2 linked regions of the Homo sapiens genome follow. The protein of the gene in region 2 binds, or shares a complex with, the protein of the main gene of each other region. Each region holds a gene or a part of one and is shown on either strand. Other genes may lie near its edges.

The links. Proteins that work in one complex are often made in the same cells at the same time.
Region 1: the proteins of MYBL2 (region 2) and LIN9 are in contact, whole or in part, in a crystal structure (PDB 6C48), measured with the Homo sapiens proteins. Residues at the interface, in NP_002457.1 of Homo sapiens: Trp663, Ala667, Cys668, Gly669, Gln674, Met677, Gln678, Ala681, Arg682, Leu684, Leu685, Arg687; in NP_001353174.1 of Homo sapiens: Lys356, Gln385, Arg386, Tyr388, Ala389, Thr390, Val392, Leu393, Leu395, Glu396, Asn399, Leu402, Asn403, Leu406.

The regions. Positions count from the first base shown.
Region 1 is NC_000001.11:226,306,165-226,313,483, forward strand, and holds the start of LIN9 (protein lin-9 homolog), read right to left. Parts: upstream 2,976-7,319; coding exon 2,945-2,975; exon of another isoform or gene 2,287-2,944; intron 1-2,286. UniProt on the Homo sapiens protein: Acts as a tumor suppressor. Inhibits DNA synthesis. Its ability to inhibit oncogenic transformation is mediated through its association with RB1. Plays a role in the expression of genes required for the G1/S transition.
Region 2 is NC_000020.11:43,705,111-43,712,131, reverse strand, and holds part of MYBL2 (myb-related protein B), read right to left. Parts: intron 6,914-7,021; coding exon 6,774-6,913; intron 2,170-6,773; coding exon 2,070-2,169; intron 645-2,069; coding exon 531-644; intron 1-530. UniProt on the Homo sapiens protein: Transcription factor involved in the regulation of cell survival, proliferation, and differentiation. Transactivates the expression of the CLU gene.

The DNA of each region.
Region 1 (7,319 bases), on a different chromosome or scaffold from region 2:
AAATACAAGAATTAGCCAGGTGTGGTGGCGGGCGCCTGTAAACCCAGCTACTCAGGAGGCCGAGGCAGGAGAATGGCTTGAACCCGGGAGGCGGAGGCTGCAGTGAGCTGAGATCGCACACTGCACTCCAGCCTAGGTGACACAGCAAGACTCTGTCTCAAAAAAAAAACAAAAGAAAAGAAAGAGAGGGAAGTGCCAAAGAAAATCTCTAGGTTTCTGCCCTGCCAGCTGAATGCACAGTGGAACCATTCGAATCACTAGAAGTATCTGTCCTGGGGTAGGACTGAGGTGGATTTTAAACCTGTGCAGTTTGAGGGGCCTTTGAAGCATCTAAGAAGAAATGTGAAACAGGCAAGAGATATCAAGAAAGGGAGCTCAGGAAAGATCTGGGCTGAAGATAGCCTTAATTTCCTTATATAAAATGTGAGCACTTACATCAACTGAAATGAAGATTAAATGAGCAAATACATGTAATATCCTTTGCATGGCATCTGGTTCATAGTAAATACTCAATAAATGGTAGCTTTCATTATTGATAATGTTATATCGACTCCTGAACAATATATTAGCTAGCCTCCTTGACTAAATGTGGCCAAAAAACATACTGCTATTTCCAGTATCAAATTGAAATCGCTTTTCCTTTTCAAGACCCTGCTCTAGTTTCAGTAATAATACCTGTTACTTTGCACTAATTCCATAAAAATTATTTATGTATACTTGATTTGTGGCACTGTATGACAAAGAAAGAAAGAAAATCCCTGGTTTCAACAAAGCTGAAGTCTACCTAAACAAGACATACGCTTCACAAATACACACCAATGCACCAGAGATGTCACAAAGTAATATAAATGATTAGGTTATATAATTTGAAAGTGGAGCTGGAATTTGAACCCTAATATAAATCCCAAGTCCCTACAAAGAACCACAGTAAATTCTCAATAAATGCTGGATGATATGAAGCAAATATTCCTAATGGCAGTTGTAAGAAAGCCACTTAAAATGCCTCTCATTACAACAGAATGACTACAGTAACCAAAACAGTAGCTCTAGTGATTGTGACATCCAAGAGGTGATAAGACATGTTTATGATAAAGATACCAAGGATGATGAAAAACATTTTCGGATGACAAGTACACTGTGCTTAGTAGGTCCACACTCATTTGGGAGCATTCTAAGTCACAATCAAGACCAGCTGCGGTGGCTCACGCCTGTAATCCCAGCACTTTGGGAGGCCGAGGCGGGTGGATCACCTGAGGTCGGGAGTTCGAGACCAGCCTGACCAACATGGAGAAACCCCCATCTCTACTAAAAATACAAAAAAATTAGGCAGGCGTGGTGGCACATGCCTGTAACCCCAGCTATTCGGGAGGCTGAGGTAGGAGAATCGCTTGAACCTGGGAGGCAGAGGTTGCAATGAGCCGAGATAGTACCATTGCACCCCAGCCTGGGCAATGAGTGAAACTCCATCTCAAAATAAATAAATAAATAAAATAAATCACAATCAATTGTATTCTACAAATAAACAGTACAGCTCATGACTGGTCAATAGCTGTGCCCTACCCAATACAGTGACTACTAGCTACATGTGACTATGCAAGTTAAAATTAAATAAAATTCAAAATTCAGTTCCTCCATCACTCTAGCCACATTTGAAATGTTCCATGGCTACATATGGCTAGTAGCTTGGCTGCCCTACTGGACATCACAAAAGAGAACAGTTCTATCATGGACAAAGTTCCTTGGGGACTTAGTGCTGCTCTCTATCAAATTTAAAACACAAACACTTTTAATACGACTTTTCACCAGCTTGGCAACTTGAATTTTTAACTTTATAACTTACTAAGAACACATGACCTCACAAAGAAAATGGAATCGGTAGTATGTTGAGTCCTCATTTTTAAGTCCATTTGCCTTGTGCATAGATAAGATTCAATAGTAATTGAGCCTTTCACAAATATGTATAAACTGAATAGTGAAAGTGGATTCAGGACTTTTTTTTGTAATTAAATAACATATTTGTCTTTTCATATAATTTATGCAATATTGTAAATTACAAAATTAAGTTCCATTGCCCTTAAACTATGGAATTGGTGCTTTTACTTACTCAACACAAGTGAGCATACATGTCTTAGATGTCAGGGTGAGTAAACATGGTTAGGGGAGGCAATGCCCTAGGGTGGGTGTCAGGCAGGGTACACGTACGCTGTGTTGGTCACATCCATGCATAAAGGTACCTTTATGGCTCTTAAGACACATATAGAATAAAGTCTGCGGGACGGGGTCTACCTGAACACTGAGTATCCGGGCTGGATGATCTCAGGAAAGGTCCACAGCCACCTGTGGTCCCAGGGGAAGGGGCCAACCCTCTGACACGGAAACACTTCCAGGGGTGGACACACCGGTGGGGGGGTGGGGAGGACAGTGAAGATCACAAGTGCCCGTAGAGGCAGGAGCTGTGACAGGACAAGATCAGAGGCTGGGGCAAGAAGAAGGGGCCGTGGACCACCCCGTGCCCAGCCCGAGCCCTCCCCCGGCCCCGGGACAGGCGAGTTACATAACCCCGGCGGGCGTCTCTCGGCGCCGGGCGAGTGGTGCAGGCGGCGAGGACAGCCCCCGCGCCCAGGGGCCGCTCTTCCCTCCACCTCGGCTGGGGGCCGGAGTGGCGCCAGGGGAGCAGCCACCGCCTCCGCCTGGCACAGGCTGGACTCCCGGGCTCTCGGTTTCCGGCCCTGGCGCTCACACAACCCCAGAAACCAACACACAGACACCATAACAAAGGCGGCGACGCGGCGGCAACACCGGAGTGGGAGGACTAGGGGACCACAGTGGGGCTGGCAGTCAGCCCACCTGCCCAGCGGAGGGCACGGCCGTCCGTCCCGGCCGGTGCAACCGCTGGGCAAGCAGCAGGCGGGAAAAGGGGGGGGTGCTTTGAGGTGCTACTCACTCTCGTCAGGCAACTGGTCGAGCTCCGCCATCTTGAACGAGCCGCGCCGCTTTTTCAAAGGCTGCCCGCCGCGGTGCATTGTGGGGCGGAGACTGTCTTTGCGAGGGAGGTTCGAATGCGGAGCTCGCTGCCCGCGGCGCCGCGCTGCGCTGCTCCCGCCGCGGCTGGCTGAGGCGGGCCCGGCTCCGCCCGCGCCTGCCCGGGGAGGAGGTGCCGCCGAAGGGGGGCCGCGCCTCGCCCCTCCGCCGCCGCCTCCGGCCGAGCCGGGCGGGAGGAAGGGAGGAAGGAGGCCGCACGGCGAGGCCCGGCGCCGGAGCGCGGGGGGAGCAGTACCAGCTCCGGAGTCCCGCCCGGGCCCCGCTCCCGGCGCATGTTCCGCGGCCCGCGCTGCAGCTGCGGGAACTGCAGGCTGTTTGTTCCGAGTGGAGAACGGGAGGGAGGCCCCGGCGGGGGGAAAGAAGCCCTCGGTTCTGGGTCGCATTGCCCGAGGGGGCTCTACGCAAAGTGAAATACTCACAGTTCCCGAAACCCACGTTGCTTGGGCGCCTCCGTCCCCTCACTTTTCCCGAGACCGCCGGCCGCAGCAGCCCCCTGCGCGTCGCGACGTCCGGGACTCGGTCCCAGCGGCCCCTCGCGATCCGGGCACGCCTTTCCCGAATGTTGGAAGCTGAGCTGCGTGCAGCCGGGGAGCGAGACCTTGAGAGGTCATGAAGTTGGTCATTTAGGCCGACAGCTAAAGAACTGTTCTGCTCAGCTGTTTCATCCATTCGACACTAGATCGTGCAGTGGGCTGGAAGAGAATTAGAAAACGAGTAACAGGAGGCTTCGAGAGGATACAGAAAGGAACAGTGACACTACAAGGTGATAAAGTACCTGATCCAAATGTTATGAGAATACTGGACGAGAATTGAACGAAATTGAAAGAAGCCCAAGGAAAAATTTCACAATATCTGTCTGTAACACTTTCCAGTAATAAAACACTGTTGCTTTTCAAAAATTCATTTAACGAATGTCATTGAGCTCCAATCCTTTTCTCCAGGAATTTATGGGGGTTGGAGGAATGAGACCGTTAAGCAGTCAAAAGACAACGTGGGTGAATTCCAGGAACTACAAAGTTAAAAGGCGGTAGACTAAGGTGACAGAGTGGTACACAGAGGCCCGCCCAGGCTAAGGAGTTGAACTTGCTTAGTCCACTGGAGCAGTGGAAAAGTCGGGTGTAAGAGGGGCACGTTTCTATTTGTGTTTTAGAACAAAAATATGGGAAATGGATTGGTGGGGGACAAGATGAGAGCCTAGAAACCAGTCAGGAAGAAGCTTATTTGGGGCATGCAAAGGACAGAAGAGAGATGCCTGCACTGGTAGCTAGAGAGGTGCAGCGGGTGGGCTCTGGAGCCCCAGGGCCTCGATGGGAAGAATCCAGATGGGCTGCTAGTTGTATAATCTCAGGCACGTTGGTTTCTTAACCGAATTCTCTGTGCCTCAGTTTCTTATCTGTAAAATGCAAATAACAGGGTTATTTTGAGGGCTAAACGATTTGATAGATGTAAGGACCTTATACTAGCTGCTAGCACCCATCAGCTAGCCACTATTACCACCATTACCACAGCATAGGCAGTATTAGAGAGAGGTGGCAGCATGCACTCCACCTTTCAAGACGTGGAAAATAAAGGATTGGGTGAGTCACTGGGTGTGAGGAGAAGGAAGTCTCATTGCTGATGCCAGCTCTGTGCCTTGGGTAACTGGGTGCTGCCATGCTAAGGTAGGAGGGAGAGCAGGGAGTGAGCAGGGAGGGTGAAAGTTCAATTTTACAAAGTAATCCTTCCTTCAGAGCTAGCTTAACCTCTCCTTTGCCTTCTAAACACACTCTGATCTGCTCCCTAAGAAGATTAAAACACTGGTCCTTGTTGTCAGCACCTAGGGGGTGCTTCAGCAGCTTGCACTTCAGTATCAATTTGGAGATGAGATCAAGAAAAGGTCAGCCCTTTAAGAATGGAAGAATAGAAATTAAAAAAACATGAGAGGTTACCAGAGTGGGAGAAGCAAAAGCTTTGTGAATGTCATGATAGTCAAGGTGTCATTAGACCAAGGCAAACCTGGTTTTATTCTGAGGCAGTTTTCATGTACACGCAACAACACAACTACTGTTTAAATCAATGTTTTTAGGCCCTTGCCTGATAATCTGCATTTTAAACAAAAACTTTGACTCTTCTCATAAATCCAAAGCCTGAAGCTGTATCCTAGCCCCAGATCTAGCGCTTAGCTGTGTGATCGAAGCCAAGGCACACCTAACTCTTCAATAAGTTTCGTTATTGAATATTTATGACAGGTTTTACAATGATTGGCTTACTTGATTCTCCCAACAACCTGGTAATTTGTCCAAAGACAATGGCAAGCAAGTGCTAGAATCAGGAATCTAGCCCACTTTTCGGTGCCTCAGTGACTCCCTCTGTGATGGGAGGATTACACGTATGTCTTTGTCCATTTGTGCTGCTATAACAAAACATCTGAGACTGGGTAATTTATAGACAACAAGAATTTTTTTTTTTTTTTTTGAGATGGAGTTTTGCTCTTGTCACCCACGCTGGAGTACAATGGTGTGATCTCGGCTCACTGCAACCTCTGCCTCCTGGGTTCAAGCGATTCTCCTGCCTCTGCCTCCAGAGTAGCTGGGATTACAGGTGCCTGCCACCACTCCTGGCTAATTTTTGTGTTCTTAGTAGAGACAGGGTTTCACCAGTTTGGCCAGGCTGGTCTTGAACTCCTGATCTCAAGTGATCTACCTGCCTCAGCCTCCCAAAGTGCTGGGATTACAGGCATGAGCCACCGTGCCCAGCCGACAACAAGAATTTATTTCTCACAGTTTCAAACGCTGGGAAGTCCAAGATCAAGGTGCCAATGTTGGTGTCTGGTGAGGGCAGCTCTCTGTTTCCAAGATGGTGGCTCGTTGCTCCATCCTCTGGAGGGGATGCATGCTGTGTCCTCACATGGTAGAAGGGACAGAAAGGCAAGAGAACACCTCCTTCAGTCTTGAGCCCTTTCATAAGGGTGCTAACCCCATTCACGAGAGCAGAACCCTCATGACTTAATCACCTCCCAGAGGCCACACCACTTAATACTGTTGCATTGGGGATTATGTTACAACTGAATTTTGGAGGGAATACCATCATTCAAACCATAGCAACATGCAACACAGGGGTATTAAGTTTCCTGCAATCACTTATTCCAATTTAAAATGACATGACTGTGTGTGGTGTTTGCTTTTTAAAAAAAACAAACCACGGTGTGGATAAGGTCATTAAGTCATGAAAAACCTAAATAAAAATACACCATAAGAAACATCTCATGTACCATCATAAATATATCCACCTACTATGTACCCACAAAAATTCTAAAAAATTTTAAAAATACCATAAGAAAAATAAACATGGCCACGTTTTAGAAATACCAGGTTTGACCATTTCTAGTCCTGTGGCCTATTTATCAATTATTGGGTTGGATTATTTTTGTGAAAACAGTTGCAATGACTAAAGATAAAATGTGTGTGTTGGGGGCCTGGTGCAGTGGCTCACACCTGTAATCCCAGCACTTTGGGAGGCTGAGGCAGGTGGATCGCCTGAGCACCTGAGATCAGGGGTTTGAGACCAGCCTGACCAACATGGTGAAACCCAGTCTCTACTAAAAATACAAAACTAGCCAGGCGTGGTGGCTTGTGCCTGTAATTCAAGCTACTTGGAAGGCTGAGGCAGGAGAATTGCTTGAACCTAGGAGGTGAAGACTGCAGTGAGCTGAGATCACACCACTGCACTCCAGCCTGGGTGACAGGGTGAGACTCCGTCTCAAAAAAAAAAAAAAAAAAAAAAAAAGCGTGTGTGTGTATAGTATGTGTGTGAATGTTTTTATAAATACTTTTGATAAAGTTGGGAATTTGAGTTAGTAATGAAAAAACAAAGACAATTCAGTTTGCCTTGCTTGAGTATCTCAGCCATAATGAGGTAAAAAGGCTCTCCAGCCTATAAATATATATATTTTTAAGTTATGTTGCTGGTAGGACTCCACACTCAGCATTTCCTCTTCCAGCATCCAAGTACACCAGGAGTACTGATGGCCCCAGGATCTAGGTTCAAATTGCAGTTCACCTACTTCCCTTGTGTGTATTCTTGAACAAATTACTCTCAGTAGTAGTTTTTAGTTTTCTTCTCCCTTTCTTGAAGGGTTATCATGAAGATTAAATTACATATTGTAAATTAAGTGCCTACCAAGATCTCCAGTGACTGTTGGTATCCTTCCTTGATGAGAATCCCTCTTTTACAACATAAATATTCTCAAAAATGTGCCCAGTGGCCATCCTGGTAATTCCCTTCAGAATCATCTCCCT
Region 2 (7,021 bases):
GCCCCTGCAGACTCCACCTCACCTGAACCCACTCCCCCACCCCCAGCTCATGCAGCTTGACACTCAGCCAGGCACTGCCTGGCCTGGCTGGCTCATCCCGACCGCCTCGCCTCCACCCAAAAGATTCCTTTGGAACCTCCCTTTCTGCGGCCCTTGGTACCCTGTGAATTCAGTCATGGTGTGTCTGTCTAGCATCTGTCTCTGCCCCCTGAACACTAAGGGGAGATCCAGTCTGGGTCGTAATTGCTGCTCCATCCACCACATCCAGCCCAGCCCAACTTGAGCAGGGTCCGAACACAATGCTGGATAAGTAAGTGAATCCTTCAAAGCAGAGCAGAGGAGGGTCCCAGAGACACTGTCCTTATCTTGTCAGTTTCCTCAACAACCACCGTGCGAAAGGGGGCAAAGGGGATATGCTACGCCCCCATTCTCCCCAGCGCCTCACTTTCTACAACCTGTCCCCAGACGCCTCCCCCATGCCACGGCTCCAATTCCCCCTGCCCAGGCTCTCCCACCCCTACCCTACTCACCCCAGGCTTCCTCTTCTGCTTCTCGGGCCTGATGTCGTCCTCGATGATGAGTTCGATGCCAGCCTCAGAACGCAGCACCTCCTTCAAGTCCTCCTCCAGGTGCGGGGTCTGTGGCTGTGGGTAGGCACGGGGCAGCCCACGTGAGGCACCACACTCGGGCTGTGTGTGTGTGGGACTGTGGGACCAACCCAGCTGCAACTGGGCTGTCCTGGGTAAGGCAGGAAGGAGGCCTGACGCCAGGATGCAGATCTCACACGCACCATTCACAACCACTAACTGCTGCCTTGGACAAGCAGCTGATGACCTTGATTCCCAGGGGCCTGCCATGGCTGGGAGCAGCCCAGAGACGCACTGTAACCCTCACACAGCCCTGTGCAGTAACCGTCATTTTAAGCAGGTAGAAACAGAAGCTCAGAGATCAACAGCCTGGCACACAGTCACACAGCTGCTGAATTAGGACCCCGACAGCTCAAAGCCCAGGCTCACTCAACCCTTTGTTCCACACTAATGGGGGCTCTCAAACCCATTTCCCTTTCTCAGGCCTCGGGGTTCCAAGGACCTCTCCAGCTTCAGGCAACAGAGAACAGGGGAGGGCGAGTGCTACTAAGAGTGAAAGGTGCGAATCACAGCCACTCCTCATAAGTCATCCGAAAAGCCCCCACAAACTTTAATTACAGCTGCCAAGGTCATGTGATTTGCCCTCACACCTGTTTGGAGAGCATGCAGATATTTTAGTACAGAGGAGCCAAATCTCCACTGCAACAGGAAAGGAGCACTAACTAGTGCCTCACCTCGGCTCATGTAGCATGGTCCGTGGAAAGTCTGCTTGACTCAGAATCAGTTCCATGGCAGGCCCAAGGGAGCCTCAGCCCCCAGCCACCTTGGGCTTCATAGGAGGCTCCATGCAGTGGAGAGAGACAGCAGGGGGACCCGCTGCAGACCTTGTTCACAGTCCAGTGCCTCCACAACCATGCCTTTCTCTCACCCTCCACTGATTTCTAAAACACCTGTGTGTTTCAGAAAGCCCAAGGTGCCAACTCCTTTTTTCATAGAGAAAACACAACCATCCCATCAACTGGGAAGAGCAGGGGAGAAGGGCAGCCTGCACACTGCAGGAAAGACGTCCCCGAGGGGCTTTCCCGTGCTCTGTAGAGAACTGGGAGTTGGTCAGAGACAGGCCAGAGTAGCAATTTGCCACTTCTCTGAACTAGGCCCAGTGCTTATCTTTGCCTGAAAGTGTTTAAGTTATTTGTATTTCACATCAGTCTCCCCCATCCTGAGGCTGAGTGTCACGGGATACCACCATGTCTCTAGCACCAGCCGGCGCGTGCTTGCAAACTCAGGTGCTCAGGAGCAGTCGGAGGAAGTGACAAAGAGCAGCCTCAGCTTCCCCATTTATATTATCAGGATCTCTGCATCTTCTCAGGAGAAAGAATCAAATGAGACCTCAGAGGGAAGGGTCCTGTGGACTGAACATGGTTGGATGAACCGAAGGGATCCCACTGTGCAGAGATCCACGGCAGCGACCACACCACGTACCAGGGGCTTCAGGGGTCCGTACTTCTCCAGGGCGTTCTTGAACGGGGTTGGCGTGTGGGGAGTGTTGTCCATGGAGTACTTCTGATCTGGGGTTACAAACCTGCCAGGGGCCAGAACGGGGGAACTAGTGACAGGATAGGGGCCGACGCCAGGCACTCTGCTGCCCTGGCTCCACCTTCCCCCAGTGCGACCTTTGGCCCCAGCACAGGTTCTCGTCCCATCCCTCTCCCCACCCTGCAGGTCCAAGTCAGGGGCTCGGGGGAAACAGAAGGGAGAGGGGAGTCTAAGAGGGGCCAGGAGCCCCAGACAGGTGGCAGATAGCCGAGAATGCTGCTCAGTCATGGTCCAGACTTGGGACTTTCCAGAAAACAAGGCAGTCCGTGGCCACACTTCAGGAACAGTGAGAGGGGGCACGGAGCAAGGTGGGAACCCAGGAAGATCCCATCCTGCCCAGCTCTCCCTGGAGAGCCTGTGTGAGAAGGATGGTGGCAGCACAATGAGGGAAAGGAGGGGCGAGAGGTGAGGCCAGCATCTTCCCAGGTCTCCCAAGAGTTCACCGAGGTGATGGACACGTGGAGGGAACCCTTCAGCAGAACAGAGAAAAACCCAGGATGGTCTGGTCCAGAAGCAGAACTATAAGATGCTTCTATCAGATGTAGACCCACCATGGGTGATTTCCACCTGCCCTAGAGCAGGGGGGCAGAAAAGGCACCTCACGCCCCAGAGCGCCAGGGCTGGTGGTATGGGGCTGGGCCAGGCTGGCTGTGGGCAAATGTCAGCTCTGAAGGAAGCTACCAGGTTCCACAAACACGAACCCTTGTGTGCTGGTATGTGACCTTAGTCACCTGGAGATACCACCATGGCTGACTCTCATGGCATAACCAGGGCACTCAGAGGATGAGAGAAACACCCCAGGTAGCCAGGGACCTGGGTGATGAGGCCAACTCCTAGAAACAGCAGCCTGGGGCCTCGCCGCCTCCACTTCCCGCAGCTGGCCAGCCACTCCATGGGGAGATAAAAAACTAGAACAAATGCAGACCATTCTTTTCTTCCTTCCTCAGGACCTAGAGATTAGGCAGGGATCCACAGTCTCTTCCCAAACCCTTGTTATCCCCCATCTGGGACACACAGAGATCCCCCTCTGTAAGGAAGAGTGAAGACAGATAAGCACAAGTCAAATGTACACATCTTACAGTTCAAACCACAATTCACAGAGGTGAATCTGAGCCACTCAAGCATCTCCATGGGACATGGAGTTTCTGAGGAACATGAGAAAATTCCAGAACCTCTCTAATTCGTGGCATCAACAAGGACTAAGAGCACACACATGGCCAAAGGCAGTGGTTCACGCCTGTAATCCTAACACTCTGGGATTAGTGTTAGGCTGACAGGAGAGGATCACTTGAGGCCAGGAGTTAAAGAACAGTCTGGGTAACACAGACTCCATCACTACTAAAAATAAAAAAATCAGCCAGCCATGGTGGTGCTTGTAGTCCCAACTACTCCAGAGGCTATGGTAGGAGGACCACTTGAGCCCAGAATTCAAGGCTGCAGTGAGCCATGATTGCACCACTGCACTCCAACCCGGGTGACTAAGAGAGACCTTGTCTCGGAAAAAAGAAAAAAAAGAGTGTATATACACACATTAGAAAACTCAGGGAGAGGCCGGGCCTTGTGGCTCACCCCTGTAATGCCAGCACTTTAGGAGGCTGAGGCGGAAGGATTGCTTGAGTCCCAGAGTTCAAGACTAGCCTGGGCAACACAGTGAGACCCTGTCTCTCAAAAAAACAAAAAAATTAGCCAAGCATGGTGGTGCACACCTGTGTTCTCAGCTAGTTAGAAGGCTGAGGTGGGAGGATCACTTGATCCTGGGAGGTAGAAGTTGCAGTGGGCCATGATCACACCACTGTATTCAACCTTGGGGACAGAGCAAGACTGTCTCAAAAAGAAAACTCAGGGAGGCAGGGAGGCTGACTTGAAAAGGGAATTCAAAAGATTGCTTGGAGATAAAAAATGCAGCTCTGTAAATCAGAGAATTCAGCAAGTTGGAAACCACAGACAACCAAACTGGTGAATCAGAAAACAATCCCATCATGTTCTCCGAAGATTAAGGAAATGGCTTAAGATGGTGAAGAGGCGTATGAAGACGAAAAAGACACAGAGACCAATCCAGCCTATATATGAAGGAATTCCTAAGGTAGGAGAAGGGGCAGACAGGGAAAGAAAAACTAAAGAAATAAACACTTCCTCAGCTCAAGGTTTGAATCTTTAGTCTGATATGAAAGCCGGGGGGGAAAAAAATAGAGAAATACCACACCACCATACAGCCTGTCAAATTTGAGGGATAACTAAAGAGACTCTCTACAAAGGAATAACAGCTGGATTACAGCTCACGCCTGTAATCCCAGCACTTTGGGAGGCCGAGGCAGGCCATTTGAGTCAGGAGTTCGAGACCAGCCTGGCCAATATGGCGAAACCCCATCTCTACAAAAAAATAGAAAAATTAGCAAAAAAATATAAAAATTAGAACTCATCACCAGCAAGCCCACACTACATGGTTAAAGGATGGCCTTCAGAAGGAACCAGATGGAAATATGGATCTAAAGAGGAATGAAGAGCACTGGAGATGCTTCTTCCTATGGAAAAAAGGAATTGGAAGGAGGCAGCAAATGAGGCCACATGGATAAGAAAGAAAGGGAGAGAGAGAAGTATCAATGCCTTTTGTAGTGACAGCATCTCTGTTTAAGGGCTTAGATGCGAAGTCCAAGATTCTGGTTTGAACGGACAATCATTTCTCACGAAACCTATCTAAGTTATGCTTTAGATCAACTCTTTAGAGACTGATTTCTTTTTTCTCTTTTTTTTTTAAAAAAAAAAAAAACTAGAAAGAGAGTCACGCTTTGTCACCTAGGCTGGAGTGCAGTAGCCAATCATAGCTCACTGCAGCTTCAAACTCCTGGGCTCAAGCAATCCTCCCACTTCAGCCTCCCGAGTAGCTGGGACTACAGGCACACACGGCCACGCCCAGCTAATTAAAAAAATTTTTTTTGGCTGGGAGCAGTGGCTCACACATATAATCCCAGCACTTTGGGAAGCCGAGGCGAGTGGATCACAAGGTCAGGAGTTTGAGACCAGCCTGACCAACACGGTGAAACCTCGTTTCTACTAAAAATACAAAAATTAGCTGGGTGTGGTGGCGCGTGCCTGTAATCCCAGCTACTCAGGAGGCTGAGGCAGGAGAACTGCTTGAACCCGGGAGGCGGAGGTTGCAGTGAGCCGAGATTGCACCACTGCACTCCAGCCTGGGTGATAAAGCAAGACTCCATCTCAAAAAAAAAAAAAACTTTTTTTTTTTTTGTGTACAGACAGGGTCTCCCTATATTGCCCAGACTGGTCTTAAACCCCTAGTCTCAAGTGATCCTCCCACCTTGGCCTCCCAAGCGCTGGGATTACAAGTGTGAGCCACTGAGCCGGACTTTGGAGACTGATTTCTGACTAAGGGATTCACAAATCTTTTCCCGAAATTATGTATCACTATCAGGGCTAAAATTCCTGAGCTGATTTCTGAATCACAAAATAGCGATTTCCTCCTCCAGCAAATGTATCAAGCAGAGGAATAGTTAAGCAACTCTCTCTACCTGGAATTTAGAATCATGATGACCCAAGGAAGTAAACTTATTGTAAAAGCACTTCCATTGTAAAAGCAGGCTGGCGAGCAACCTGTACAGGCTTCCAGACAGAAAATGTCATGCTCCGTAAGCTCAGAGGACAGGAATGCAGTCTCCACTCTTGATAGAGGGATGGGCACTTTCGCCCTGCACATAAGGCTGCTCAAACACAACGAATTTGCACCTGAAACCTTAGGAAGCGGAAGAGATTATGTTTTTCAGGCTAATTTGGACTCTCCATTCCTGAGACAGAAAATTATCAAATGAGGGCCAGGTGCAGTAGCTCACGCCTGTAATCCCAGCGTTTTGGGAGGCTGTGGCAGGAAGATCACTTTAAGGCCAGTTCAAGACCAGCCCAGATAAAGTAGCAAGACCTCACCTCTTAAAAAAATTTTAGCCGGGTGTGGTGGCTCACGCCTGTAATCCCAGCATTTTGGGAGGCTGAGGCAGGAGGATCACGAGGTCAGGAGATCGACACCATCCTGGCTAATACGGTGAAATCCTGTCTCTACTAAAAATACAAAAAATTAGCTGAGCGCGGTGGCGGATGCCTGTAGTCCTAGCTACTCGGGAGGCTGAGGCAGGAGAATGGCATGAACCTGGGAGGCGGAGCTTGCAGTGAGCCAAGATCGCGCCATTGCACTCCAGCCTGGGCAACAGAGCAAGACTCCATCTCAAAATAAATAAATAAATAAATAAATAAATAAATAAATAAATAAATATTTTTTTAATTAGCTGAGCATGGTGGCATGCACCTGGAGTCCCAGCTACTCAGGAGGCTGAGGCAGGAGGATCACAAAAAAGGAAACTATCAAATTAAAAAATACAAATGAGGAAAAGCAAAGGTGGAGCCCAAAACTATATCGATAAAAATGATAAATCGTGGTGGCCAGAAAGGAGAGGGCTTTCTTAAAACAGTCTTCAGTGTTATTCCAAGGGTGCCCCCTCCCCACTGTTCCACCAGTGGTCCCAAGGCCCATGGTCTGGTGTTGCTGAGGGAGAGGACGGCGAAGGTTGGGGGCACTGCAGCACTCACGCAGCATGTTTCTGGTGCAGGGGTGTCTTGTCCCGGTGCAGTGGTGTGGTGACCACCACCTTCTGGCTGCACACTGGGGTGGATGTCAGCGAGGGGCTCTCCAGCTCCAATGTGTCCTGTTTGTTCCAGAAGTTCAGAAACTGCCAAAGAAGAGAGAGGGAACAAGACAAAATGATGACCTGCATGAGTATCCCTGAGACCTCAGGGGATCATGGGGAGAGATCCTTGAGCCTCTCCCCCAAAACGTC